2 separate regions of the Homo sapiens genome follow, and region 1 is linked to region 2. Evidence: fine-mapped expression QTL. A gene starts in region 2. The other region holds a variant in brackets. All regions are shown on one strand. Distances are from middle to middle. Region 1 overlaps SLC60A1 (solute carrier family 60 member 1). Region 2 holds the start of ELK4 (ETS transcription factor ELK4).

Evidence for each region. PIP is the estimated chance that this variant, and not a neighbour inherited with it, causes the effect.
Region 1: its variant is fine-mapped to the expression of ELK4 in tibial nerve (GTEx, PIP 0.93).

What each region holds. Positions count from the first base shown.
Region 1 is chr1:205,600,057-205,612,161 of GRCh38, reverse strand. SLC60A1 (solute carrier family 60 member 1) reads right to left here. Exons shown (of 10, transcript NM_181644.5): 10 at 9,244-11,756. The coding sequence ends at 11,701. It overlaps ELK4 (ETS transcription factor ELK4), which reads left to right. Exons shown (of 5, transcript NM_001973.4): 5 at 1-4,219. Among named protein-coding and RNA genes, the nearest start is that of ELK4, 26 kb to the left of the region's middle. RefSeq lists an enhancer at 10,998-12,105. The variant C/T (reference allele first, on the strand shown) is at 5,755.
Region 2 is chr1:205,625,281-205,642,094 of GRCh38, reverse strand. It overlaps ELK4 (ETS transcription factor ELK4), which reads left to right and starts at 10,084. Exons shown (of 5, transcript NM_001973.4): 1 at 10,084-10,463. It also overlaps the pseudogene LOC100420878. RefSeq lists enhancers at 9,697-10,006, 10,617-11,036, 13,040-13,309 and silencers at 10,177-10,326, 10,417-10,606.

The DNA.
Region 1 (12,105 bases), 28 kb after region 2:
CCAAATAATAATCCATTACCACATGTTTTCCACAGCTTTATTCCTATTACTTTCGTCAGCCTGTTGTCTCTTATCTTCATGTTAGGTATGACTCTATTTTTATTTTACTAGTCTGCTCACAGACTTCTTTGGGACTTATGTTATATTTTACCAACAAATTTAGAATTATTTCAAGTTGCTTTATGTTAAAATATATAACAAGTTACATTTTCTTGCTGCATTAATAAGTTTTTGATTTTTAAAATCTGATATTTCAGCAACTAAAGGAATACTTTTCTTTATAGGTCTGTTCTGTTTTTAACCTCATTGACTGTATATGTTTTATTTACCCGTGCCAGGAGTCTAGAATCGTGCTTAGGTGCCATTCTTAGGTATGAAAACAAGTTTGGAGACCAATGCAGGTCTCTGTGCAGAAATCTGGGGCTCTAAATGAATTACCAAACCAATAGGAAAGTTAAAATACTACTCATGATGTAGTGTGTCATCTGAAGCTATGATAGAATATATTATTTCTAAAATAGTATTGAGAAGTTAATTGTTCAGTCCATAGTAGTGTAAGTGAAGTGTGGAGGTCAGCCATAGTTGTCTTTCTTCAGCAGGTACTCTAACCAGAGACTGGGTTCTGTGGAAAATAGAATTATATTCTTGGTTTGGGATCAACAAATGTTTTGTTATTGTTTTAATGTTGCTGGCATTGCCTGAAACAAAGTGCCCTGTTATTCCTCTTATGTCATCAGAACTCTGCTTACTGAAGTTGAAGTTTAATCTTAGGATCTAGAATTCTTGTGGTTGGTCGTGTATTAAGAAAAGAAGGTGGTTTGATTTTATTTCTTGTACTTGGTGGAACCTGTTACTATACAAGTCATGTTTTGACCTGTAAGCCGAGCAAATCTGAAAGGTGAATCGTTAATGGTAGTATAATTGTTTCATTTGAAACTGTCAGTTTCTTCAAGTCACTTCTCTGAAAAAAATTATGATAGATTGATAGCCTGCCAGAAAATAGCAATTTCTAAGGTGCTGCCATCCACACTTACTTATTGTGAAATATGAAAATCCAGAGTGGTTTGTATGAGAGGGGAAATACTGGCTCTAAGCTTTCTACAGAAAACAGGAAATTCATGCTGTTGTTGACATAATTTTAAAGGAAACTTTTAACAAGAAAATTCATGAGGGATACAATCAAACATAGTTAATCTCTTGAGTGCTAATCATTTGAGTATAGTCCACATCAGGAAGTTTTATGAGGTTGAAAACTTTACTTTGAAATATTTAATTGGGAGACTAGACCATTTCTTTTTCCAAGTCATTCTGATTTATTGTCCTAGTAAATGTATGTGTATGCATATATACTGATGTATTGACTGAATGTGTGTGTGTGTGTGTGTGCGCGTGTAAATCTGTTTTCATAGGGAACATACATTGATGGCTCCTAGTCTATTTTATACTAAAACTTAAAAAAATTTGCTGCACTTTGCAGTTGCCACTTTTTAAAAGATTAATGCTTTGCACATTTCAGTAGGCCTTAAAGATGAATTGCTCACCAACATTTTAGAAATACACTGCTTACATGTGACATACTCTAAACAAAGTCATAGTAAACTGTTCTCTTAGGTTCATGTATTATTGAGCAAATAAGGATGTCCTTTCTTAAAATTTCTACATTTATGTTTGCTTTTGTGTAAAATCTTTATTAGTTTGTAAGTTTCTCAAAGAGGAGGTTTATACTGGAAGCAGTATTTCTAAAGTACAGAGATTCGACCATGGATTGAATACAGTAGTGGAGGAATGCTGGTATTGTGGCCTAATTTATCCTTTTAAACTGTATGTCATTAGTATTAGCCAAAACCTCAGAGTGGAGTGTCTTGGGCTGAATGATCTTCTCAACTTTGCCTTGTTTCCCATCTCATAAAGGCTCCTTCTGGTTCTTTTCCCTTCCAAGGATTGTGAGTCATGCTCACATAGGCCTGGGATCTTCTGGATGGGGTCGGGGAGGAGGTGGGGGTTTCCTGTGGCTGGCCCAGAGTTCTAGCCAATGGAATCATTCAAGAATGCCTAAAGTTCAGGGGTGGGAATGCCATATATTGGTGTTAATCACTTGGCACTTTCTTGGGCACCAATATTAGCACTGTTTCATTTTTAATAACTGGAAGCACTTAATGATTATTTTGTTTGTTTAATTTCAACTTAAGGATATTGAGGGTCAGAGAAGTAAGGTTTATTTCTTGTTTATGTTTTCTGGAATTTATAGGGTGTTTGTAGAAGGGATAAATGGGTTACCTAATGAGCCATTCTTCTAGGCTCTGTAAGGTATGCCCTTTTGGCTAGGATATTTTAAAATAATTTGCAAGCTTTTAATATTGTGCTTTGTAGAAATTTACGATTTTTAAAAATAATTTGCAATTGATAGATTACACTTAAATTTATAAAGTATCCAATTTTAAGTTTCTTTTCTGTTTGGTCATTGTTGCTTATTGTCTATTGTGTAGGGGACACAATCCTGACATTTCATTGTTTTGTTACTTGGGGCAGTATTAACCAGTGGCCTTTGTATGTACATTCATTGCTTACATTTATTGTTTAAGTGGTAGAGTAGCATTTTTATGAACTTCCCTGTTCAGTATTAGTGAAATTGACAGATGCGTATATGTAAAGATAGAAAAGAAACGAATACAATTAATTTTTTATTCCTTGAGGCCTATTTATTTGTTTTGGCCCTGGATCTTTTCTAATCACAATTATATTTCTTTATTTTTGCCTTTGAGCAGTTTCATTTATCTTTGTGGGCAGGGAAGATTAAATATGAAATTCAGTCCAGTCATTTTGCTACTGGTTAGCTTTAGTTTGAGGCAAGTAAAAATTTTTGATTAAAATTAGTTTCTTAAAATTATGCCCTTGCTTTACCAAATAATCAAATTGGCTAAAAAATAAGGGTATGTAACTTTGCATTTTGAAGAACAAACCAATAATTTTTCATGAGCCCTACTCGATCTTCTTTAAAGAAGACCTTCCTAAGAGACAATTAGGGATGAGTTTGATTAATGGGAAATAGCTCTAGGTTAGATTATTTTAAATTCCATACACCAAGTGATTTAACCACAGTGGCAGTGGCAGTTTCTGAACCGTCAAGTATGAACATCACTTAAAAATTAAAAGATGCTTAATAATAAACTCTTAATTTTCATTAAGCCAATCTGTAATTCAGAAGAAAAGCATATGTCTGCCATGGGACTATTGCAGTGCGTCTCCATCAGTGTTAACACAGGAGAGATATGTTATTTTATGTGTATGTCTTAGTTTGGGATATGTGGTAGTAAGAACATGTCAAGAGTGCTTTCTTCAAACCTGTCAGCTCAACTGAGAAGACAGTTACTTCATTGCTTATTTTTTCCCTTGTTTTATTGAAATCTGTATCTCATATCCAGTATCTAACACTTTGTAGAGATACTTACATATAATGTAAGTGCACACCTACCCAGAGGAATGGATAACTGTTAAAGTGTTAATAATAGCTCGTCTTAGTTGATTTCAGCATAATTTACATTAGGGAGACCTAAAAAGCACCTTCAAAGTATTAAAAGCACCTTTTTTTTTTCTTTTTCCTAAAAAAGCAATTAAAATGGTCACTGCTAACATTTATTAAACTTCATGTTAGTTGATGAAACAGCTGGAGGGAAGCTGCCACATCTCCTAGCTAAGCAGTCTGACTTACCTGTTGGGAAACAAAGGGATATTGCTCTAAGATTGATTAGGATGATTGTAGCTAGAGTCTTGAATTCTATCTGTATACGGCAGAGAAACTTTATAGAGTGTAGAGAGGTGAGCGAAAGGATGCAAAAGCACTTTGAGGGCTTTATAATAATATGCTGCTTGAAAAAAAAAATGTGTAGTTGATACTCAGTGCATCTCCAGACATAGTAAGGGGTTGCTCTGACCAATCAGGTGATCATTTTTTCTATCACTTCCCAGGTTTTATGCAAAAATTTTGTTAAATTCTATAATGGTGATATGCATCTTTTAGGAAAGATATACATTTTTAAAAATCTATTTTATGTAAGAACTGACAGAGGAATTTGCTTTGTATAATGCAGGCTGGCTTTACAAAAGCACTGTAGCAAATTTACTACAAGTCTAAAAGTATACATATATGTTAATAGATATATGTGCAACTAGATATGGACAGCAGTTGTATTTTTTTAAATAAATATTTTTAACAAAATGATTTTCTGAATTGATTATTTATTCCCTTCTCTCACATTCATTGAGGTGGTCTCTTTACAGTCTCTGTATTACATTTTCATCCATGCTAACTGTGGGTCAGGAAAGAGTTGTTTTCCCAATGGCTATCATTAAAATCTGGCCTTCAACAATTTGATATGTATCTACATTAAAATATTTAAAGTCTAGATTCAGATAGGTGGTGAACAGGGGAGATTGTAAAATGATTGTTGACATAAAAGGAATTAAGAGAGAACTGAGTGGCTAGAAAAAATATTCACCATGTGAAATCTCTTTTTGTTTTACTTGAAAAATAAAGGGTTTTTAAAAATTTAATCAGCTGGGTGCAGTGGCTCACACCTGTAATGCCAGCACTTTGGGAAGCCAAGGCAGGTGGATCACCTGAGGTCAGGAGTTTGAGACCAGCCTGGCCAACATGGTGAAACCCTGTTTCTACTAAAAATCCTCCCAAAATTAGCTGGACGTGGTGGGGTGTGCCTGTAGTCCCAGCTACTCGGGAGGCTGAAGCAGAAGAATCGCTTGAATCCGGGAGGCAGAGGTTGCAGTGAGCTGAGATCACACCACTGCACTGGTGTGATCATGGGTGACAGAGCAAGATCCTATCTCAAAAAAAAAGAAAAAAAAATCAGAGGCTTTTATCTAGCCCTTGTAAAAAGCAATGTAGACTTCACTTAGCAAATGAAATTAGGCTTTTTTAGAATTGGGTCAAAATAATATACATAAGGGAAAGTGGGTTGTTTTGTTTTGAGACAGAGTTTTGCTCTTGTTGCCCAGGCTGGAGTGCAATGGTGCGATCTCGGCTCACTGCGACCTCTGCCTCCTGGGTTGAAGCGATTCTCCTGCCTCAGCCTCCCGAGTAGCTGGGATTACAGGCATGCGCCACCACACCCGGCTAATTTTGTATTTTTAGTAGAGACGGGTTTTCTCCGTGTTGGTCAGGCTGGTCTGGAACTCCTGACCTCAGGTGGTCCGCCCGCTTTGGCCTCGCAAAGTGCTGGGATTACAGGCATGAGCCACTGTAACCAGCCCAAAAGTGGGGTTTATAGGTGGCAAAATGACAGCAGAGAGCTGTTTTCGTATCTCTTAATGAAAATCACAGGAGGATAGAGTGACAGATTGTTCTGGGGCAAAGGGGGCAGTTCACTACCCTGGTGAAATGGGTGAAATGTCACTTTGGTTGGTGGGTCAGTCAGCATGTGGAGCACAGTGAGGACTACTGCATGCTCCTAACACACTGCTCTCAGAGTATCAACTGCGACGGTAGTCCCACGAGGTAAAATCAGTTTGGGAAATGGGTTCTTCACGGAAATTCAAAAGGAAATTTCAGAATATGAAAAGTGCCAAGTCCTTCAGTTAAAAAGCCTGTTTAGGCTGGGCGTGGTGGCTTATGCCTGTAATCCCAGCACTTTGGGAGGCCGAGGCAGGTGGATCACGAGATCAGGAGATCGAGACCATCCTGGCTAACACGGTGAAACCCCGTCTCTACTAAAAATACAAAAAATTAGCTGGGCGTGGTGG[C/T]GGGCGCCTGGAGTCCCAGCTGCTTGGGAGGCTGAGGCAGGAGAATGGCGTGAACCCAGGAGGTGGAGCTTGCAGTGAGCTGAGATCATGGCACTGCACTCCAGCCTGGGCGATAGAGCGAGACTCCATCTCAAACAAAAAAAAGCCTGTTTAAGTCACCACCGTTTTCTAACCTTTCTGACTGTTGACACTTATTTTGAGAAGCCTACCTGTTTTGCAAGCACTTTCTGTGTTTTATAGGTGCGTTTAATGACAAACTAATACCCTAATATTGGGTAATTTTCCAGGGTTGGCATTATCAGGTAGGAGATAATAATTAACAGTTAGATGATTTCACATTGATTGTTGCTACAAAACACTGTACTAACTGGACGACCGACCCCCTGTAACTGCAGGGAGTCTATGAAAGTGACTTCATTTTATTAAATGAAACAGGAGTGGGCCGGGCGCAGTGGCTCACGCCTGTAATCCCAGCACTTTAGGAGGCTGAGGCAGGTAGATCACCGGAGGTCAGGAGTTAGAGACTAGCCTGACCAACAGGTGAAACCCTGTCTCTACTAAAAATACAAAATTAGCTGGGTGTGGTGGCGCGTGCCTGTAATCCCAGCTACTAGGGAGGCTGAAACAGGAGAATCGCTTGAACCCGGGAGGCGGAGGTTGCAGTGAGCCAAGATCACGCCATTGCACTCCAGCCTGGGCAATGAGAGTGAAACTCCGTCTCAAAAAAAAAAAAAAAAGCGCAAACTCAAACAGCTGTGCCAGTCAGCTGACAAGCATTGGTGTTAAGGAGTCCATTGGATGGTTCCCATGTTTTTTGTTTTGTTTTGGGGTCAACCGTGCTGTCACCCAGTCTGAAGTGCAGTGGCACAGTCATGGCTCACTGCAGCCTCAAACTTCAGGGCTCAAATGATCCTCCCACCTTGGCTTCCCAAAGCACTGAGATTACAGGCATGAGCCACCACCATATGTTTTGAATATGTCACCATAATTAACCAAAACTATCTTCTTTGGTCAAGGTCATATTGCCTTACATGTTGCCACATCTGGTGGTTGACATTCGGTGTTCATTGGACCTCTTGGCAGCACTGATTACTTAACTCCTTCTTGAGATGCACTTCATGTGCCCTCCAGGAAACCACATTTTCTCCTGAACTTCCTATTTCTCTGGCTTTTCTCATGTGCGCTGCTGGGACTTGTTCTTTTTCTAAAACTCTAGATGTTGAAGAATCCCAGGGCTCAATCTGTCCATCTCTACATTCATTCCCTAGCTTGTGTCATTTTAGTCCTATGACTTTAAATACTTCTTTATGTGACCACAAAATTTGTATCTTCAGCTTTGACTTCTCTTTTAAACTCTAGACTTCTATATCTAACAGCCTTCTTGACATCCAAGATTGCATCATAAGATGATCATGTCCAAAATAGAACTCAGAATGTCTCCCCATGGCCTTCCAGAGTTAAATGGCTTCATCATGTACCCAGTTACTTAGGTCAGATTCCTTCAGGTCATCGTTGATTCTTTTTTGTTTGTTTTTTTGAGACGGAGTTTCACTCTTGTCACCCAGGCTGGTGTGCAGTGGCGTGATCTCACTTCACTGCAACCTCTGCCTCCCAGGTTCAACCGATTCTCCTGCCTCAGCCTCCCGAGTAGTTGGGATTACAGGCACCTGCCACCACACCCAGCTAATTTTTGTATTTTTAGTAGAGACAGGGTTTTGCCATGTTAGCCAGTCTGGTCTCGAACTCCTGACCTCAGGTGATCCATCTGCCTTGGCCTCCCAAAGTGCTGGGATTACAGGCGTGAGCCACCGTTCCCGGCCCATCCTTGATTCTTATCTTTCTCACACTACACCCAATCCATCAGCAAATTGTCAGTTTCACCTTCAAAATATTGCTTGAATCCAATCACTTTCACCACTTCCGTTGCTATCTACATTTCCAAGCCACCATTATTTCTTCAGTCTATTGCAGTGGTACCCAGGTGGTCTTCCCAATTCCATGCTTGCCCCATAGTCTCTTTTCCATAGTAACCAGTGATACTTTAGATATGTAAATCAGATCGTGTCGCTTGCCTGCTCACAACTCTTCCAGTCATCTTACATCACTCCAAAAAACCTCTACACATACCATGGCTTGTATGATCTGGCCTCTAGCAACCACTCCCACTTGTTCCGTTTGACTCTTCCTCACTGCAGTTGAGCCACACCAGCCTACTTGCTGTTCCTCCAATACCATAAGCATATTCCAGCCTAAGGCTCTTGTACTTGCTGTGCCCCCTGCCTGATGGGATGTTTTCACGTACTTGGATAGCTTGGTCCCACGTATCATTTAGTTTTCTACACAAATAGGACCTCCTTAGAAACGCCTTCCAGAGCATCTTTTTTTTTTTTTTTTTTTTTTTTGAGACAGAGCCTCACCCTGTCACCCAGGCTGGAGTGCAGTGGCACAATCTCAGCTTACTGTAACCTCCACCTCCCAGGTTCAAGCAATTCTCCCACCTCAGCCTCCCCAGTAGCTGGGATTACAGATTACAGGTGTGCACCACCAGGCCCAGCTAAATTTTGTATTTTTAGTAGAGACAGGATTTTGCCATGTTGGCCAGGCTGGTCTTGAACTCCTGATCTCAGGTGATCCGCCTGCCTCAGCCTCCCAAAGTGTTGGGATTACAGGTGTGAGCCACTGTGCCTGGCCCTAGAGCATCTCTTGACATTCCCTATTCCCATTCCATACTCCCTGTATGTTTCTTTATGGTGCTACATTACCCCTCACCCTGTGGCATTCCCATATCCTATTCCATATTCCCTGTATGTATGTTTCTCTATGGTGCTACATTACCCCTCACCCTGTGGCATGTTACGTGTAGTATTTGTTTGCTGTCTGTATGTCTTCACCTGCGGTATAATCCTTGTGAGGCAGGGACTTCTGTCTCAGTCACCACTGTATGTCTGTACCTAGATTAGTGCCTTGAACATAGCAGGTGCTTAACAAATCCTTTTTGACTGAATAAACGAAATTCACTCTAAAAGAACTCTATGTCACTGTGTCTTCTTTTAGTGAATCCGATGTGCCTGATGGGTTAGATTTCCATATACAAGTAGCAGAGGAAAATCTGGGAACAGGGTGATTCCACAGGATTCTGAAATGTCCAAATTCCTGAAAGGAAGATGAGGAAGAAAGTCCTACTTGTGTAACTGAGAAGCGTGTGGTGTAAGAATCGACCTGCCTTTTCCTTATTCCTTATTCTGATTTTATGTAATAGGGAATAGTGGCACTTAGCCCTGCTATGAGAGGTTATTTATTTATTTATTTATTTATCTTTTTTTAAAAAAATTCAGAGTTTCCCTTGTGAGACAGTTTTCTTTCTTCTAAAATATAAGCCACATTAACTTATTAGTATGAGAGAGACCTGCCTCTGGGGAACATCAGACCATTTGTTTCTGAGTGTATGCAAGAGGATCAATTGTTCTTCATAATGGATAACACACTTAATAAGTTTAAATATTTTATTTTAGGAAAGGTACTCTTAGATTTGTGTTAATGTTGTTTTCTGTATTAACAAATTAGTCACAATCAACTTCGATATAGCCATTGATTCTTCTTTCTAAATCTGTATAAAAAGGATATTTTCTTGAAAAACCACAAGAAAAATACAACTGCTTTTTCATTGCCCAGGTCAGTTACTCGCTACAGTCAGACTGCATTTAAATTAGACTGGCATCTAATACTTTTGAGTATTTACAAATATAATTAAAACTATACTCCTAGACCACCAGCTTTCAAAAAAGTTGGATCTGCTTGACTTGCAATAAATATGTACCAAACATGAATAATTTCTAAGCCGCTTATGAGGAGGTTTTAAAAATTACTAACATTTATTAAGCAGTTTGTGTGTCAGGCATATTGTGAGTGCTTTGCTTTATACAAATTCACTTACTTTTTTCAGAATTCCTTTGAGGTAGGGTAGGTACTTTTAGAAATGCCATTTTACATGTGAAAAGTGAGGTTGGAAGAGCCTCAGTAACCTGCCCAGGGCCACACAGCTAGAAGGTGAGCCAGCACTTGAGCCACGTTTCTCTTTCCAGCCAGATTCTCAGCACTCAGCTGTGCTGCTGGTGGTCACAGCTGGCTGACTGGACCAGGAAGAACCTTTTAGTGTCAGGCGTGTGAATCACAGCACTTGGGACAGGTTACCAAGAACCATGATCACTTAATTTTTATATTTATACATGTACATTTGTATATACATAGAGAAAGTGCAGGCAAAACCATTATACAGTTACTCTAATAGCCATTTGCTACTGCCAGCAGTCTCAGGACTGATCCCTGTCTAAGCTGGCAAGTTTACATTCTCCTTGTATCACTACAGGATTTGCTCTGGACAGGAGCTGTAACTCCTCAACAAATCCTGCTTTCAGTCTACTACTGCACAGCTTGAATTGTTCAGTAGGCCCAGCTTTTTGTGAAAGAAAAGGCCTTGCCATGGTATAAAGAGTTTTTTTCCCTCTATAAAAGATGTAAAATTTTTGGCTGGGTGCAGTGGCTCACGCCTGTAATCCCAGCACTTTGGGAGGCCGAGACGGGCAGATCATGAGGTCAGGAGATCAAGACCATCCTGGCTAACACGGTGAAATCCCGTCTCTACTAAAAATACAAAAAATTAGCTGTGCGTGATGGCATGCGCCTGTAGTCACAGCTACTTGGGAGGCTGAGGCAGGAGAATCGCTTGAAACTGGGAGGCGGAGGTTGCAGTGAGCCGAGATGACGCCACTGCATTCCAGCCTGGCAACAGAGTGAGACTCTGTCTCAAAAACAAAAACAAAAACAAAAAAAGATGTAAAATTTTCATTAGGTATTTTCAGAAAGTCTTAGTGCTGTTTCTATACCTTTTATATGCTAGTCAATGTCAGTAGAAAAAAATGGAACATCCATTTCATTCTCCTGGGCGATTTCTGGACCAGTTAGCCTTGATTACTAGCAGTGGTATGCTGGTAAATGTTTAACCACTGGCTCTCCGGGATCTGTAGCTTTTGCCAGTGTCCATGGTAATACTCCCACCAGGCTGATTTCAAGCTACCAACATGCTATCACGAAGAGTGGAGTTGAGACAAGGTGCACAGTAGCACACCATCATATATAGTAATTCCACCACACAGGTACCATGGACGTAAATTACCTCAAGAGCATCAAGATCAAATTAGGAAGTGATATGCTTTGAATATTTATTACCTTTGTTTTAAATGTAATTGATTTAATTATAAGTTTGTATGATTTGATTTTTAATAATGGCTGCATTTAATAACCAGCTGTCAAAATGAAAATTTTACAATCAGCTTTTCTAAGTTGGTATGAGCCAGCTTAGCATACCACTACATTAGTATACCAAAGAGAGCAAGATTCAACTTTTCCTTTTGGTGTTTGAGAATATAGATAAGCTATTGATGTCTGCAGCAGGAATTTAAGAGACTTTGGACTATTAAGTGAAAAGCACGAAAATCCTTTGAGCATGCCAGGGAATAACTTGCAGCTTGTTTTGCTTAAATTGAAATATATCTACATATAGCAATGATCATGGAGCTTTACAATTTCAACCTATTTTTACAAACTTCAATGAAGAATGATCTCAAACCCAGAGTATGGTCCATGCATGAGGTGACAAATGGAGTGAAGCGCGCGGCTGTCTCCTTCCTTCCCATCTGGGTATCTGGACAGCTCTTACCAACAGTCTGAACCAGGGAAGAAGATAACTTGAGAAGCCAGGTAAACTTCTAATGATTTTGACCAGGTACCAGGACTCAATTTAATTTCCTCTACCCAACCAAGTTTTAGTGGAGAAGACTTGAATAGCCATTGAGAGAGCGCCTCCACCACCACCCAGCTTTCTGAAACAGTATGGTCGTGCTGGTGATCAAGAGGCTGAAAGTCTTCTCTTGCCTTCTTCACCCAGTTTTACCTCTGGTAGCACTCAGAGTTTTCCATTCCAATTGATCTGTCTTGGGTAGGAACTACAAAAGAAAAACAAAACAGGTAGCATGTTTCAGCAGCTCTGATGAGTTGCAGTGATGATTCATTCTGAGAGCTTACCCAGGCTGTTTGTTTCTCTGCCATTCTGTGGCTCTAGAGGGAGCAAAGTGAAAAGTCAGACCCCCTAGTTCTGGCGAACAGTTGGTGGAGGCAGTTTCCTGAGACTGCTGTCTAGGGCTTGGGGAATGTGTCTGTCTCCCATGAATAAGGAGCCCATTAAGTGTTATTCATTTAATGTTCAGCAAATATTAATTGAATGTAGGTCTTAAATGAAACTCCTGTGTGTGTGCAACCAGTACTGCTGTCTCAGAAGTGAGGCTATAGTTAGTG
Region 2 (16,814 bases):
CCAATGAGGAAGGCTCTTCCCACTGCACAATCCACTAATCTCACCTGCTAGCTGGTGGCAAAGTGGGCAGCAGGGTGTTTGGAGCAGTGAGGCAACTGGCAGCCTATTTTCAAACCTGATGTAAAACTTTTTTTCTTTTTGCTTACATAAAGCTTATGACTGTTCAATCTGGGGTCGATAGCTTGCAACAGAAAACCATGCTGTGCCCAATGTGGCCATTATTGTCATTTTACCTCCTATTTAGAGCAAGGGCAATGGGCAAGATAGTAAAGGTTCTTGAAATCCTCTCACTAGAGGATGGAGATATATTTAGCTTGGCAAAGAGATTCCCAGGAGACTTGAGAGCAGTCTTCAGCTATTGAAAAGGCTGCTCTGAGGAGGAAGGGATGGAGTTGTTCTATGTTCTCCAGAGATCAGAATGGGGCCAGGAGAGGTTACAGGAATACAGGTTTTGGTAGGCAAAGGGTGAAGGGTTCTGCCTTGGAGGTTTTGGAACATGGGCTGGATAAGTGTTTGGTGCAGGGTTGTGAAGGAGATTGAAGCATTAAGGGATGCTTGGGCTACATTATTTTTAAGCACCTTTTAACCTTGAGATTCTCTGATATGAGGCTGTGGACAATGGTCAATTGCCATGAATAGTGGCATCTGAAGAGGTTGAATATGACCATTCATCCAACCAAACGTGTTGGTCTGTTGTGTATAAAGCGCTCTGTTCAACAAGAGATGCTAAGGTCCCCATCCCAAGTACAAACATGGCTGTAATACAAAACAGAATGTTACACAGGCTATAAAGAGGCATATACACCTCTCTTCCTCCTCTCCTAGAATACAGAAGAGATGGTAATAATACACAGTTTGGAGAGCAAGGAAAGCTGTCATGAAAGCGGTGACTATTTCATCATTAATGCATGGTTTAAAAAAAATTAGGCAGAACAGGCTGGGTGCAGTGGCTCATGCCTGTAATCCTAGCACTTTGGGAGGCCGAGGCAGGCGGATCACCTGAGGTCAGGAGTTCAAGACCAGCTTGGCCAACATGGCGAAACCCCGTCTCCACTGAAAATACAAAAATTAGCTGGGCGCAGTGGTGGGCACCTGTAATCCCAGCGACTTGGGAGGCTGAGGTAGATGAATTGCTTGAGCCCAGGAGGCAGAGGTTGCAGTGAGCTGAGATCGTGCCACTGCACACCAGCCGGGGCGACAGAGTGAGACTCTATTAAAAAAAAAATTAGGCAAAACAAACAGGTATGCTATAAAAGTGAGTCTCTAGTATTAATCAGGAAATTCTGACACCTGCTATAACATGGATGGACCTTGAGGACATTTATGCCAAGTAAAATAAACCAGTCACAAAAAGACAAATACTAATGATTCCACTTATATGAGTTTCCTAGAGAAGTCAAATTCATACAGTGCTATAAATGATTACTTATCAGTCTATTACCCTTAACTGAAAATGTCTTGTTGTTCTCTTTTTTTTTTTTTTTTTGAGTCAGGGTCTCACTCTGTCACCCAGGCTGGAGTGCAGTGGTACTATCATAGCTCACTGCAGCCTCTACCTCCTGAGCTCAGGTGATCCTCTTACCTCAGCCTCTCAAGTAGCTGGGACTACGGTCACATGCCACCATGCCCAGCTAAGTTTTGTATTTAATAGAAAGGGGGTTTTGCCATGTTGCCCAGGCTGGTCTCAAACTCCTGGGCTCAACTGATCTGCCCACCTCGGCCTCCCAAAGTGTTGGGATTACCAGCATGAGCCATTGTGCCTGGCCCTGAAAGCATCTTATATTCCTCTTTCTTAGCACAGTGCCTGGTGTATGGCAGGAACTCACAAAATATTTGTTAAATAAATAGGAACATTCCCACAGGAAGAACAATCACATCTAATGGGGTAGAGGTGGGAGGTGGTCAGGGGAAGCAGGGAAGAAATAACATTTGAGAGCTGAGTCTTCCTTGAAGTGGGAATTAATCATTCAAAATTTACTAAGTCCCTATTTTATGCCAGGCATTGGGCAAGGACCCATTGGATATACAGAGATGACTGACACAGCATTTAGTTTTTCAGAATCTCATCGGATAGAGGAGACAATCCAGGCTGAGAGCACTATATAAACAAAAGGCTGGAGTCCTGAAAATGCTTTATGTGTTTGCAGGGGATATAGTTTATGAAGGAGGGGATTAGGCTTAAAAAGAGCTAGACAGTGAAAGGTGAAAGTAGGGAACAGTGGAAGGTGATATGGCCTTTAAACTTTGCTGCTTACAGGTCTTTCAGGTTACAGTTTGAACTTGATCCTGGAAGCAGCAGAGAAATCAATCACTGGCTACTCTTAAAACAGCTGAGTGACACAATCAAATGTGTACTTCAGAAATTTTCCATGTGGCAATGTGGAGGATGGGCTGGATTGCCTTGTTATTGGGAGACAAATTAGAAGGCTACTGCAATAGTCCTAGCAAGAGATGATGACAGGCTGGGCACGGTGGCTGACACCTGTAATCCCAACACTTTGGGAAGCTAAGGTGGGTAAATTGCTTGAGGCCAGGAGTTCAAGACCAGCCTGGCCAACATGGTGAAACCCTGTCTCTACCAAAAAAAAAAAAAAAGCAAAAATTAGCTGGGAGTGGTGGCACACACCTGTAATCCCAGCTACTTGGAGGCTGAGGCATGAGACTCACTTGAACCTGGGAGGCGGAGGTTGCAGTGAGCCAGGATAGCACCACTGCACTCCAGCCTGGGCAAAAAAAGCAAGACTCTGTCTCAACAAAAAAAAAAAAGAGAGAGAGATGATGATGAGAGCCTTGGGGACAGGCATGAGGAACAGATTAATGTGAGATATTCTAGAGGTACATGCATCAGGCCATGGTGACCAATTGTCTGTGGAGGGTGAGGCAGAAGGAATTGTTGAGGATGACTGAGGTGTCTGGGTAACGCTTTCAACTGAAACTGGGAAAGGGGATCAACTGAAACTGGGAAAGGGTTTGGTGTGGCAGGTATAAGTAATGAGTTCAAGTTGTATATTCTGAGATGGAAGTGTCATGAGGACATTCAGGTGGAGAAATCCTGTAGGACACTGGAAACGGATCCAGAGTTCACAGAAGACAGGATAAAGGTTAGGGCTCATTAGCATCTGGGTGATGAACGAAGGCTTGGAGAGAATGGGGTCCCTTATGGGGAGTGTGTTGAAGGACAACAGGCCGAAGATAGAAACCTGAAGCAAGGACAGAACTTTCTTTCAGAGCTGGTAGAAGAGAAGTCCCAAAAGAGAGACAAAAACTGGTTAGGGAGATAGAAGAATCACAGAGGCCAAGAGAAGAGAGTGTTTCCGAGAGGGTGCCAGGAAGGGACAGCTAAGTCTGCTCTGGAGGTCAGGGATGTGTACCTAAGGAGGCAACATCTAAACTGGTCTTGAGGAACAGCCGAAGATGGCGAACGGGACAGTTCCTGAAAAGGGAATGTGAGATTTGGCAATCAGGATAGCTGTAGCCTTTACTACGGAAAAGTCAGTGGTGGAGACAGCAGACAGATTCAGCGGGCTGAAGAGTAAGCAGAAGGTGAGGATGGGTAGGCAGGAGATAGAAACCATTATTTTTTGAAGTTTGATACTAAAGAGAAGGAAAGGCTAATACTTGAAGGGGGAAGTTTTCTAAATGGGTGGGACTTGAGCATGTTTACTAGCAGAAGGAGAGGGAGGTGAGAGGCCGAACGTAAGAGAGGCAGTAGTGGGTGAAGCAAAGGCCGTGGAGAGGCAGACGAAACGGACTCCAGCGCAAGCCACGCTGCAAATCTCTATGCCAGGCAGTTTGTGCCTCTGAGCTCTGCCATGCCATTCCCTTTTCCTGGATGATCTCTTCAATAAACCTTTACTGAGCCACTCCTGGGGCAGGGATTATTCTGCAACTGTGCTGCAAAGGTAAACAACCTGGGCTCTCTTCTCCAGAACTCATTTCCAACACTTGAAGAGACAAGTAAGAAACTTCAAGTCAGTGTGGAGAGTGCTGCAAGGACCAGTACTGGACATGATGGGAGACACTGGAAAGTCCCAAACCTAGTTTAGGGTGTTAGGGGACTTCCTGGAATCGGGGACATCTAAGCTGAGCCCTAAAGTAGGAGACAGTCAGATGGGAGAGAGTAAAGAAGAAGACATTTCAGGCCAAATGCCTGAATACCATACCCTGGAGTGGTCAGGTTGGTTCTCTGGTGGGAACACGAAGATTCTCCTGATCTTCTCCTCCCTACTCTCAACACTCTCAACATTCGTAGTTTTTACCTCCACTAAATACTCTTTCCTATATTATAGTGATGTTACCCCTTTATCTACTGGAAACTTCTGAAGAGAAGAGACTGGTCTTATTTTTGAATCTCCTAAAGTATCCAGCACAGAGCTCAGCACACGGTTAATGCTTTAAAAATATTTTTTGATAAGAAATCTCAGGCCTAAGAATCCCTATCATGGCTAATAAATTCTCAGAGGGCCATTGGTAGGATTAAGATATAGAGATTAAAAAGGGAAAGAAAAAAGTATGCATAGGAAGAAAAAAGGGTCAGGGAACAAGAGAGAGACAGAGAGAGAGCTGGGAAAGAGGGTGGGGAAGAAGCAAAGAGACAGATAAAGTGTACACACAGTGGGGAGGGATCCACTTACAAACCAAATCTAGCCAGAATTCTTTGCTCCATGAAACCTTGTCTTTGGATATTTTCCATCATGGGGAGAACTCCTTATTCTCCCTCTGCTTTAGGGGTCTCCCACTGGAATCTGATTCATAGATAAATTTGGTAAGTTGCAGGCATCACAACTCCATCTTCTGAGAAGCAGGGAGAAGCTGAGAGAGGGAAAGAAGGGGAAAAAAAGCCTACAAAACCAGCAAGTTTCCCACTTTACAGAGTGAGCCTAGACAGAACTTGAATTTTCTTCCCTTGAGAGTTAGGAGGAAAGCTGGTAGCTGTGTCACACTCCTGAGTTGTGTACACGACTCACAAGCCAAATTTTCTAGCACAGCAGAACAATTTTGTTTTGCTGCTGGATATATAAAGCAAGGAAAAAAAAAAGATGGCATTCCATCTTTTTGAATTAGCACCAAGTCTTTCAAACTCCACCCTTTCCAGGAAATGTTCTTTAATGCAGTGGGAGGTGGTAATTTTACTCTCTCCAAACCCTCATTTTACTTCCCTCACAACACAAAACCCTGCTCAGAGCTGCACTTATATCTTCGTTTGTCAGCCTGACTGCCTCTCCCATCATTTCTGAATCCTTAGCTGAATTCTTTGTTCATGTCAACGGGATAGCAAAAGAATTCTGAAAATGCTGGAAGTCGTGGACAGCAATGATGGTCGCTGAGGGTGTCAGTGTTGCCAATTCAAGACTCAGAATTCCTAGAAGAGCAAATGCTCTTTGAGTTTCTTCTGTAATAACAGCATAGTATCATATATTGGTGCTTCCTTAATTAACTTTAATTGAAGAAGTTTTTTTTCCAGACAGTGATTATAAAATACACCAGAGAGGAAAAATTATTTTGGCTTAAAATTCAGAGCAATATGTATTCTGCAAGGAGCTGGTCCAAACACCAGAATCTTAAACAATTATACAAAAGGCAGATTTCATGAGCTTTTATCAATTAAGGAACACCTTTTCCAAAGGTGGCTCACGCCTGTAATCCCAACACTTTGGGAGGTCAAGGTGGGCAGATCACCTGAGGTCAGGAGTTTGAGACCAGCCTGGCCAACATGGCGAAACCCCGTCTCTACTAAATACACAAAGATTAGCAAGGCATGGTGGCACACGCCTGTAATCCCAGCTACTCAGGTGCCTGAGGCAGGAGAATCGCTTGAACCCGGCAGGCAGAGGTTGCAGTAAGTCGAGATCCCATCACTGCACTCCAGCCTGGGTGACAGAGTGAGATTTTGTCTCAAAAAAAAATTGATATATTCTCTCTTCTTTCTCTATTACATATTCCATATCAATTTTTATAAGTCTAGAAATAATACATTTATCAAAGACCAATAAAATTACTTGAGGTTAAAAATATTAAAAGAAAATAAGTAGACTGGGTGTAGAGATCAAGAATGAAAATTATATGAAGCTATTTTCTGACCTGTGTTTGTGACAGGTCATCAAACATATTAGACAGTTGCTATGCCTCAGGCGGTAATTGCAATAACTCATGTCTCGTCATGTCCTCTCTGAAAAAACAATGTATTGTGTGGAGATTACAGCTAGTCCTGAAAGATGTTGCCATGAGTTTACTTCACAGTCTAGAGGCCACAAGTACCTTGTTCAATGACCTTCAGATTGGGTTTTCTCCGGACCCTTAATACCCTCTGATTAAAAGCCTTATTATTGGGGATGAAACGTTTACTGGTTATATTTGGTAAAGTTTAGGACCTTAACAGGTAGTAGGGGTTGCCAGTGCTGCCAGATTCAATATACAGCTAGCCAGAGTTTTCTTTTCAAAGATAACTTTACCTCTATCTAAGATCTCAGTCCACACAAATATAACAGCAATAGGGCTATTTACCAAGAGTTCAAAGCATCATTTGATCAACCGCTTTTTTTTTTTTTTTTTTTTTGAGACGCAGTTTCGCTCCTGTCACCCAGGCTGGAGTGCAGTGGCACGGTATCAGCTCACTGAAACCCTCACCTCCCGGGTTCAAGCCATTCTCCTGCCTCAGCCTCCTGAGTAGCTGGGATTACAGGTGCCTGCCACCACACCTGGCTAATTTTTTTGGTATTTTAACAGAGATGGGGTTTCACCATGTTGGCCAGGCTGGTCTTGAACTCCTGACCTCAGGTGATCTACCTGCCTCAGCCCCCCAAAGTGCTGGGATTACAGGTGTGAGCCACCACAACCAGCCTACTGCCTTTTTCTTTTAGTCTATCCATTACAGACATGAAGTGAAAGGTATGTCTCTTTTATTTCTAAAGATGTTGAAAGTGAAACCCAGAAAGGGTAAGTCGCAAGGATTTTCTCAGGAGGTTCAAGTTTTGAGTTTAGGGAGACCCAAAGGCTAGAACCCAGATATCCCAGATTTTTATTCTTTCTTCTCAGTCATGTTGCAATTTGCTCCACACTTGTCCCCACCTGGGGTTGTGGGTGCTGTCTTTGACTTAAAAGATATCTCTTCTTAATGTCACGTGCTACAGGATATTGCTTGAAAGACGTAACAGGCAACTGGATGGCTCCATGCTTGCTTAGTCAGTCAAAAATCCGTGAAACACTTCTTTAGGAAAAAGGGATAGTGACTGGGAGTAATGATGAAGCAGTGAAATAAAGAGAGGGAAGAGGAAGTTGCCTTGAGAAGTAATGATCATAACTAGGTGTTATTGGGATAGGAAATGTAATTAAATTAGGGGCAAGGGGTTGCAGAGCTGAGTTAACTGCAGTGATTAAGAAAAAAAATCTAGGCCAGGCCCGGTGGCTCACATCTGTAATCCCAACACTTTGGGAGGCCAAGGCAGGCGGATCACGAGGTTAGGAGTTTGAGACCAGCCTGGCCAACACGGTGAAACCCCGTCTCTACTAAAAATACCAAAATTAGCTGGGCGTGGTGGTGCACACTTATAGTCCCAGCTACTCAGGAGGCTGAGGCAGAAGAATCGCTTGAACCCGGGAAGCGGAGGTTGCAGTGAGCCGAGATTGTGCCACTGTAACTCTAGCATGGGTGACTGTGTGAGATTCTGTCTCAAAAAAAAAAACAAAAAACAAAAAACAAAAAACAAAATCTAGGGCAGGCCAGGTAGAAAATACATATTTAAACATTTTAAGCCAGGCGTGATGGGTCACGCCTGTAATCCCAGCACTTTGGGAGGCCGAGGCGGGCGGATCACCTGAGGTCAGGAGTTCGAGACCAGCCTGACCAACACGGAGAAACTCCATTTCTACTAAAAATACAAAAAAATTTAGCCGGGCATGGTGGCGCATGCCTGTAATCCCACCTACTTGGGAGGCTGAGGAAGGAGGCTCGCTTGAACCCGGGAGGCGGAGGTTGCGGTGAGCCGAGATTGCGCCATTGCACTCCAGCCTGGGCAAGAAGAGCGAAACTCTGTCTCAAAAAAATAAATAAACATTGTAATAAAATCTACAAATTTTCTTTGGGATGGCTCTGAGTAACTAAGGCTAAGATCAGGAATCCATCTATCTGGTGGGAAAGTGACCAAACAAGATAACGAAAAAGCAGTCTTTTTGGTTGACCAACGTAACTACCATGGAGTTTGCACAAACAGAACCATCTGTTGTGTGAGGAACCATGGAGAGAGATTGTGTATTTATAGAATCTTGAGTGGGAAAACCAGGCACATTAATTAACTTTTCCCCTCAAGTTCTCTAATTAGAAATCCACTTTTCTTCCTTTCTCTTCTGTCAATATGTACCGCCTTAAAAAAAAGTCAATTTAAAAGCAGACAGATTTGCTATGACTAATTTAAGAACTCCCAAAGCAGGCTGTTTTCCAAAAATACACTGCAATTGACAATGCCGTAAGCTCAGTCTAAAAGGGATATGACACAACTACTGGCCCTAAGGCCGAATCAGATGTTTACTGCCAGTTTGAACAGAGCAGCGTAGTGTGCAGATCTCCACAACCCTTAACTGTTCTTGGTAGGGGGCTTTAAAATGAAATCTTTTTATAAACAAATGTTTCCAATAGGTGTATCCTAAACAGCCTACCTTAATACTTTTTTTTTTCTTGGTTTCCAAGATGGAACTTGTTGCAAGGAAAATTTTATGTTAGGGGCCAAGACTGCTAGTGCTTTTCAGATACTGCATGTTCCTTATAAAACATGTCTTAATATGTTTGCATGCTTTGGTAAAACTAATTTTGGAAAGGTAACATCTTTTGGTAGAGTTGTTTTTACAGGAATAGCTACCTTTGTGGATTATAATTACTCTGTATTATGGAAGAGGAGGCTGGAAATCAAGGAAGTGATGATTCTCTTCCAAAAGCCTACAAAAGGATGACAGAATCACATTTCACTCAGTGAGTTCAATTAACTATACATTCAATTGTGGGGGCAAAAATAAATGACACCACGATTTACTGGGTATCTACTATGTGCTAGGTAATGCACTAAGTACATTATGCTCTATACTTCATTTAATCCTCTCAGCAATGCTGCTCATTATCGTCATTTTACATGAGGAAACTGAGGTCCAGAAAGGTTAAGCAACTCACTACAGGTCACACAGCTAGTAAATGGCCTCGAATAACCAGTAACTCAGACACTGACCTCTCTTTGGTTTCTTGTTAAACAAACACCTAATTTATTTCTTGGAGGTTTTGTTCAGCTGTCCTAATTTATGACTTTACATTCCTTCTGGTGCTAAACTGCTCAAGTAGCCTCTTGTATCAAGTGTGACCTGATTCCTTAAGAATTTTACTTAATGAGAACCTCTAAGCTAGAAACTCTTGCTAGGTGTTTCATGCACCTTATTTTCTTTAATCATTACAACAACTCTAAGATTGGGTTCTCTCCACCTTATAAATGATGACTGTTTTAGAGAGGTTAAGGTTGCTTAAAATTGGTGAGTTAGTGAGGGGTAGAGCCACGAATGGATTTCTGGTCGCTGCCTCCATCGTCAGGGCAAGCTTTTCCCACGACTCCAGCGCTTCCATTTGTCAGTCCCCAGGCTAGAAAGCCACAGTGCTAATTTAGTATTTATCAAGCGTTTGTAGTGTCCTGGGATCTGGCACTTCGATGAGAAAGCTGTGACGGCCCCAACTTCTAACAGCGAGTGGTAAGGAGGACGAGGGACACAGGAGGGAGGAGACTCTCCCCAAAGCTTAGCACCAACAGAAGTGGTCCCCCGCAGGTTGCTCTGCGAGCGCCACCTCTTCCCTCCAACCGAGGAGAAAGTGGCGCGCCTTTGAGGAGTCCGAGGTCCCGGCCCAGGCGGCAGCTTGGGTCCTGGCGGGTTCCGGACGGGCGCCTCAGGGACCTGGAAGCAACCGCACCGAACGCGACGGAGAGCGGCGAGACGACTCCAGGAGGCGCCCGAGCTACATCCCCCGGCCACACCAAACCCGGGTTTGCTGGCAGACGCGGCTCACGACACCCCTTAGGGTCGCAGCCCCTCCCCCGGAAGTGACGTGTAGCGACTACGGCGTCTGGGAGGGACCCAGGAGCAGTCGGGGGGTTTGAGAGTGGCGGCGGCCGCGGAGGGCCTGGCAGGCCCCGCCGCTGCAAGGAACGCCCCGAACGCGCGCGCCCGGCGTGTAGCGGCCCCAAGACCCGCGCCGCCGCTGCCGCGTGCGGGGGCGGGGAGGGCGGGGCGCCAGGAGCCGCGGCGGCGGGAGATGCGGGCGGCTGCGGGCACCCGGCGGGCTCGGCTTGGCCGCCGCCGCCTTCTACGGCTCCGCCGCGGGGGTCGCAGCGGCTGCCGCGCCGTCCTCGAGTTTCCAGCGTGAGGAGGAGGCTGAGGGCGGAGAGGCGCATCGTGTTCGAGGCGGAGACCGAGGGGGAGCCCCGCGCGCGGCGTCGGTGAGCGGTCAGCCCCGCGCGCCCCCTCGGGATCTCGCGGCCACAGCCCCACCGGCCGGGAGCGGGGGCGGGGGCCGAGGGGCGCGCGGCACAACAGGAAGTGGGGGCGGGGGCCGGGGCCGGGCGCGCGCGCTCCCCTTGGGTCCGCCCCCGGCCCGCCGGGCACCGCGGCGCACAGGTGGACGCCGCAGCGCACCGCTCAGCTCTCGTCGCCTCTTGGTCCCCCGAAGTCTCGTGGGCGAAAGGTGGCGGCGATTTTTTCGGCGTGGATGGGGAGGAGGGGAGCAATTCTCATTTTCTGTAGTGACAGGAAGTTGGAAAATGAAAGTACAGTAATTCAGTGCTTACCAAGGCCCGGTGAGGTTGCACCTCTTCCCCCAGACTTTGATCTCCTGTAGGGCACACGCGGCCGTCCGCGTTTCTTCCTCTCCCCTAGCTCGCTAGTCATCCGGTGTCGAGTTTCATTTCTTTTTCTCTTTCGCTCCAGCGGCCCCCCGCCCCTCTTTACTTTCCGCCTTGTGCACAGCTGCATCGAGGCTGGTAACTTCATTCCTGGGAAGATCAATTGGAAACATCTTTCGGGGCGGGATAGTAACTGGCCTTGGAAGGAAATAGGGATGTTGTTGACTGAAGTAGTCAAAAGTACACACTTCACTTTTTCTCCAGCTATTGCTATTTGAAATTTGGGGAATTTAAATAAAGATTCTGGAGTTCTATGCCTCATCAGAATGGTTTGTCCATCTCTTTGGTTGATAGATCAGATCCTCTGTCGTCTTTTCCCACCCCCTACACCCCCTGGCTTGGAAAACTTGGTGCTTCAATATTTAGGTTTGGCAGCGGTGTTTTCATTAAAATGTAGTATGATTCAATATTTTCCCTTCAGGAACACTCTTCTCTTTGATTTTACTTAAACATTAAAACTGCGTAAGTGGAATCTGTTCATTCCTAGTGAGGTAGTGTCTTTAAGTTTTATTGTAAGAATATTGTAAGAACTGTGCAGGATCCTATACAAAGAGTATTTTTTAGGAGCCTGTGTAGTTAAAAACGTCATGTTACTTTTGGTTACTTTTTGACAACGGTGAGTATTTTGATTCGAAACTAGGCTTGATACATTCATAACTTGGTTTTTTAAGTAGCAGGCTGAAGAAAATTTGGAGACTTTGTGTTTTTTTGGGTCTTAGCTACTGTCTCTGAAAAATAGTTGGGCTATGGGTCACCACAGCAACTGGACTGTGTGTATTATAAACATGTTTAGGGTGGAAAAGGTTTTATTTAATAGAGACTTCCTTTCCTTAATACATTACTTCAACATGCTCCCTTTCAATTTAGGACAGGGATTGGTCTATCTTTGAAGTGTTAAAATAGAATCAATTATGTTTTCAGCCTTTACCCCCTCAAAAATCAAATACCTTCATTTGGACCAGTTAAGTGTTTTCTTCCTTTGTTATAACTTTAAACTTTAAAAATTGCAATTGTGGAAAACTCGGGATTCCTGTAAGAAGGAAAATCAAGTAATTAGCCTCTTTTTTTTTTTTGATAGGTAACAAGAATAAAAGGTTTTGTTTGGTTTTGTTTTGTTGTGTTTTTGTTTTTGTTAGAGACAAGGTCTCACTCTGTTGCCCAGGCTGGAGTGCAGTGATGTGGTGTCTGCTCACTGCAACCTCCATCTCCCGGCCATTCTCCCACCTCAGCCTCCCGAGTAGTCACGCACTACCATACCCGGCTAATTTTTTGTATTTTTGGTAAAGACAGGGTTTCAACATGTTGCCTAGGCCAGTCGTGAACTCCTGAGCTCAAGCTCCCCCCTTGGCCTCCCAAAGTGCTGGGATTACAGGCATGAAGCAACCACATAATTTTTAATAACTGTCTTAGGGGATTTTTTTTCTTTAGCTTTTATTTTATTTATTTATTTTTTGAGACAGGGTCTTGCTCTGTCGCCCAGGATGGAGTGCAGTGGTGTGATTTCAGCTCACTGTGACCTCCGCCTCCTGGGTTCAAATGATTCTTCTGCCTCAGCCTCCCTAGTAGCTGGAATTACAGGTGCCCACCACCACGCCCAGGTAATTTTTGTATTTTTAATAGAAACGGGGTTTCACCATGTTGGCCAGGCTGGTCTAGAACCCCTGACCTCAAGCGATTTGGTCTCCCAAAGTGCTGGGATGGTAGGCGTATGCCACTGTGCCCGGCCAGCTCTCTTTTATATCTGATGAAATCATTGAAGATCATTGTTAATACCACACTTTTTGAAACTAAAATGAAGAGTTTTGACTTAACTATGTAAGAAGACGTTGGCTGCTTTTCAATCAAAAGAATAACGATATCATAATTGAATTAATAAAATATTCCTTTAAAGTACCCAGTGAAAATGTCCACTTTATATCTTTTTCTCAAAATTCATTTCTAATACTTCAGTCTAAAACCTCAAAGCCATTTTTTTCTTTTCTTTTTTTTTTTTTTTTTTGAGACGTAGTCTTGCTCTGTTGCCCAGGCTGGAGTGCAGTGGCACGATCTCGGCTCACTGCAAGCTCCGCCTCTCGGGTTCACGCCATTCTGCCTCAGCCTGCCGAGTAGCTGGGACTACAGGCACCCGCCACCACGCCTGGCTAATTGTTTGTATTTTTAATAGACACGGGGGTTTCACCTTGTTAGCCAGGATGGTCTCCATCTCCTGACCTCGTGATCTACTTGCCTCGGCCTCCCAAAGTGTTGGGATTATAGGCGTGAGCCACTGCACCCGGCCAAAGCCATTTTTTTTTTTTTACTGTCCTCAACCTTCTATCGTAGACACACTGTAGTTGCTAAATAAGCATCAGCATTTTCCACAACAGCTCGGTTCTACCTTAAAGCAGCCAACAGCTCACCAGTGTTTGACTAAATACATGCTGCTCCACTGATAACCAACAGGGAAGGTGCAAGTTAAACCTGTACCATCTGGGGAACACCTGTTATTTTGGGGAGTCTCCTTGGGTGCTCATTATGGAGACGTTAATTTGTTGTTTTTGTCTTTAGATGTATAGCTGAGGCTTTAAACTTGTAGGGCTGAAATGTTATCTACATAATAGGTATTAAGACTCTAGGATCCGGGTGTTGGAATTTTTTCAAAAACAAATGGAATAATAGGCACCACATCTGTGTAGGCTAGAGACTCCCATTCTCTGTCTTTCCTTCATCATCTCACGAATGGATTCATACTCCACCCCTATAAGCAGTCTTATATGAAGGTGATGTCTGGAAATGTGGAAATTGAGTTCTTGGCTTAAGATAACATTTACTAGAGAGTAGTTTTAACAGGATTAGATTAGAAATAATTGTTTAAGTGGGAAAACTGTAGTAGAACGGTAACTTGCCATCATTAGGCATCATCAGAAGAAAGGCCTGTCAGGTAAACTCAAGAGACATAACAGGGAATCCCTGCCTGCTTCCACCATACTTAATGGCCGTAGTATAAAACCGCTATTTTAGCCCCGCTTAAGTGAGGCTATGGGGAACCGATTTCTAGCGGGCATGGTTATTTGGCATTAAGGTAGCACTTCATATTTGTGGATTATTATCGGTATCTAATATGTAATGCTTTTTTACAATCAATTAGCGATATGAGTGCTTTTATTTATTTGGAAAGTGGTTTCCCTAATGGACAGAGTACATGACTGTGATGAAAGAGACTTGGGACTCATGGCCTCAGCTTTTCCATGAATTCTGACTGTGGGCAGCATCTCTCCCTTTCTATCCTTTATTATTTTCCCATCGTTACTTTTAGGTGACTGTCTCTGTACAACCAGCTTCAAAGTGATAATCGTGAGGATTACTGGAGGACATTTTGAGTGTTTCAGAAAAGTTATAGAAACCCAACTATTTTCCACTACAGTTTCTTATCTCTGCCCTTTTTGGAAGTAGGTATAGTTGACCCTTAAGAATCCCATCTTCTGTGAGTTAAATGTTGTTAGAATTAGTCTTCCCAGACCTAACTTTTATAGTGTTTGTTGTGTTGTTTGTTTTAAAAATCTTTATTGAGATATAATTCACATACCATAAAATTCACCTCCTTAGGTGTAATATGCTGTGGGTTTTGTGCAAGCATGAACACAATCTAAGTTTATAATATTTTCTTTTCTTTTTTTTTTTTGAGGCGGAGTCTCGCTCTGTCACCCAGGCTGGAGTGCAGTGGCGCAATCTCAGCTCACTGCAAACTCTGCCTCCCAGGTTCACGCCATTCTCCTCCCTCAGCCTCCTGAGTAGCTGGGACTACAGGCGCCCACCACCACGCCCAGCTAATTTTTTGTATTTTTAGTGGAGACGGGGTTTCACTGTGTTAGACAGGATGGTCTCGATCTTCTGACCTTGTGATCAGCCCACCTCGGCCTCCCAAAGTGCTGGGATTACAGGCGTGAGCCACTGCGCCCTGCCTAAGTTTATAATATTTTCATCACCCCCAAAAGAAACCCTGTACCCATTTTCTATCATTCCCCACTTCTCTTCCCCGCATTTTAGCCCCCAGTCCTAAATAATTACTAATCTATTTTCTGTGTCTGGATTTTCCTATTCTGGACATTTCATATAAGTGGAAACATACAATATGTGGTCTTTTGTGGACTGGCTTCTATTAGTCACTTGCATAATGTTTTCAAGGTTTGTCCTTGTGTGTGTGTGTACCTCATTCCTTTCTGTGGCTGGATGATACCCCATTATGAATGTGCCACATATTATTTATCCATTCATCAGTTGACGGACATTTAGTTTGTTTCTACTTTTTAGATGTTATGAATAATTCTGCTATGAACAGTCCTGTGTAAGTTTTTGTATGGATGTATGTTTTCATTTCTTTTGGGTATATACCTAGGAGTAGAATTGTTGAGTCATGTATTAAACTTGTCCAAAGTGGCTACACCATTTTACATTCCCACCAGCAATGTACAAGGGCTTCAATTTCTCTGCATCCTTGCCAATATTTGTTATTGTCTGTCTGTCTTGATTATAGCCTTCCAAGTAGGCATGAAGTGGTTTCTCAGATGGTTTTGATTTTTAGTTCCCTAATAACTAATTATGTAGAGCATTTTTTTTTTGGTGGTTTCTTCTTTATTGATGTGCCTCCTACCTTCCCCTTGCAATTTCAGTCCCTTCCAACTACCCCCCAAAAAGGTAGTAAAAGGAAGGGATTGCTGGGGTTCTGAGCCCCTTGGGCAGTCAGAAAGGGAACAGAAACTGAAACAATCACTGGATGTGACAGAGACTGACAATCAAGAAGTCTAAAGCAGAATGGGAAAGGCGGGCAGAGAAAGGGGAAGAAAGGAGAAAGGAGAGGTACGAGATGCCAACTCCACCATTACCCCTCCTAAGAGAGGCTGGAAAGAAAGCCTCAAACATTAAGAAGTGCCGGTCCTGAATAAGGGAGGTGGTGTTTGAGCTTGGAGGAGGAGGTCAAGAAAGGGAGGCCACCTCTCTGTAGAATGAGACCCCCCTTCCAGCTCAGGGGTAGCAGCATCACAGACTGTAGACACTTTGGTCACTGTAGGCAACGTAGAGAAAGAAGTCTTCATGGTGTTCCTGGTAGAGCTGACCCATTGTGGCACTGGTGGGCAGAATGACATTGTTGACAAAGAAAAACAAGGCATCCTCAGCTCGGAGATGAATTCGCTTCTGGATCAAGAAGTAGAACTGGGCCGGGCGCAGTGGCTTATGCCTGTAATCCCAGCATTTTGGGAGGCCAAGGCAGGCGGATCATGAGGTCAGGAGTTCAAGACCAGCCTGACCAACATGGTGAAACCCCACCTCTACTAAAAATACAAAAATTAGCTGGGCGTGGTGGCATGCACCTATAATCCCAGCTACTCGGGAGGCTGAGACAGGAGAATCGCTTGAACCCAGGAGGCGGAGGTTGCAGTGAGCCCAGATTGCGCCACTGCACTCCAGCCTGGGTGACAGAGTGGGACTCCATCTCACAAAAAAAAAAAAAAAGAAGCAGCAGCAGCAGAACTGACCAGCTGTGAGATCAGAAGGCACCAGGTATTTCTTTTGGTCCAGGTCTCCTATCCGAGCTTTGGGAGCCTTTTCTACTATCACCGGCACCCGGTCCGGGTATTTCTTTCCAGTCTTCTTGCTCTCGGAGCCGCCCGTTTCTTGAACGGATGCTCTTCTTTGTACACGAATTTCATCCTGTTGGGAACCCGGCTGAACTAGGCTGGGCTGAAGGAACCTGGGGGAGCCGGGAGGTGGGTGGCAGTGATAGTGGCGACAAGTAGGCAGATTCAGCCAATGTAGAGCATTTTTTCGTGTGTTTATTGGCTATTTGTATATCTTCTTTGCTATGATGTCTTTTCAAATTCTTTGCTTTTTTTTTTTTAGTCGTAGGCGTTT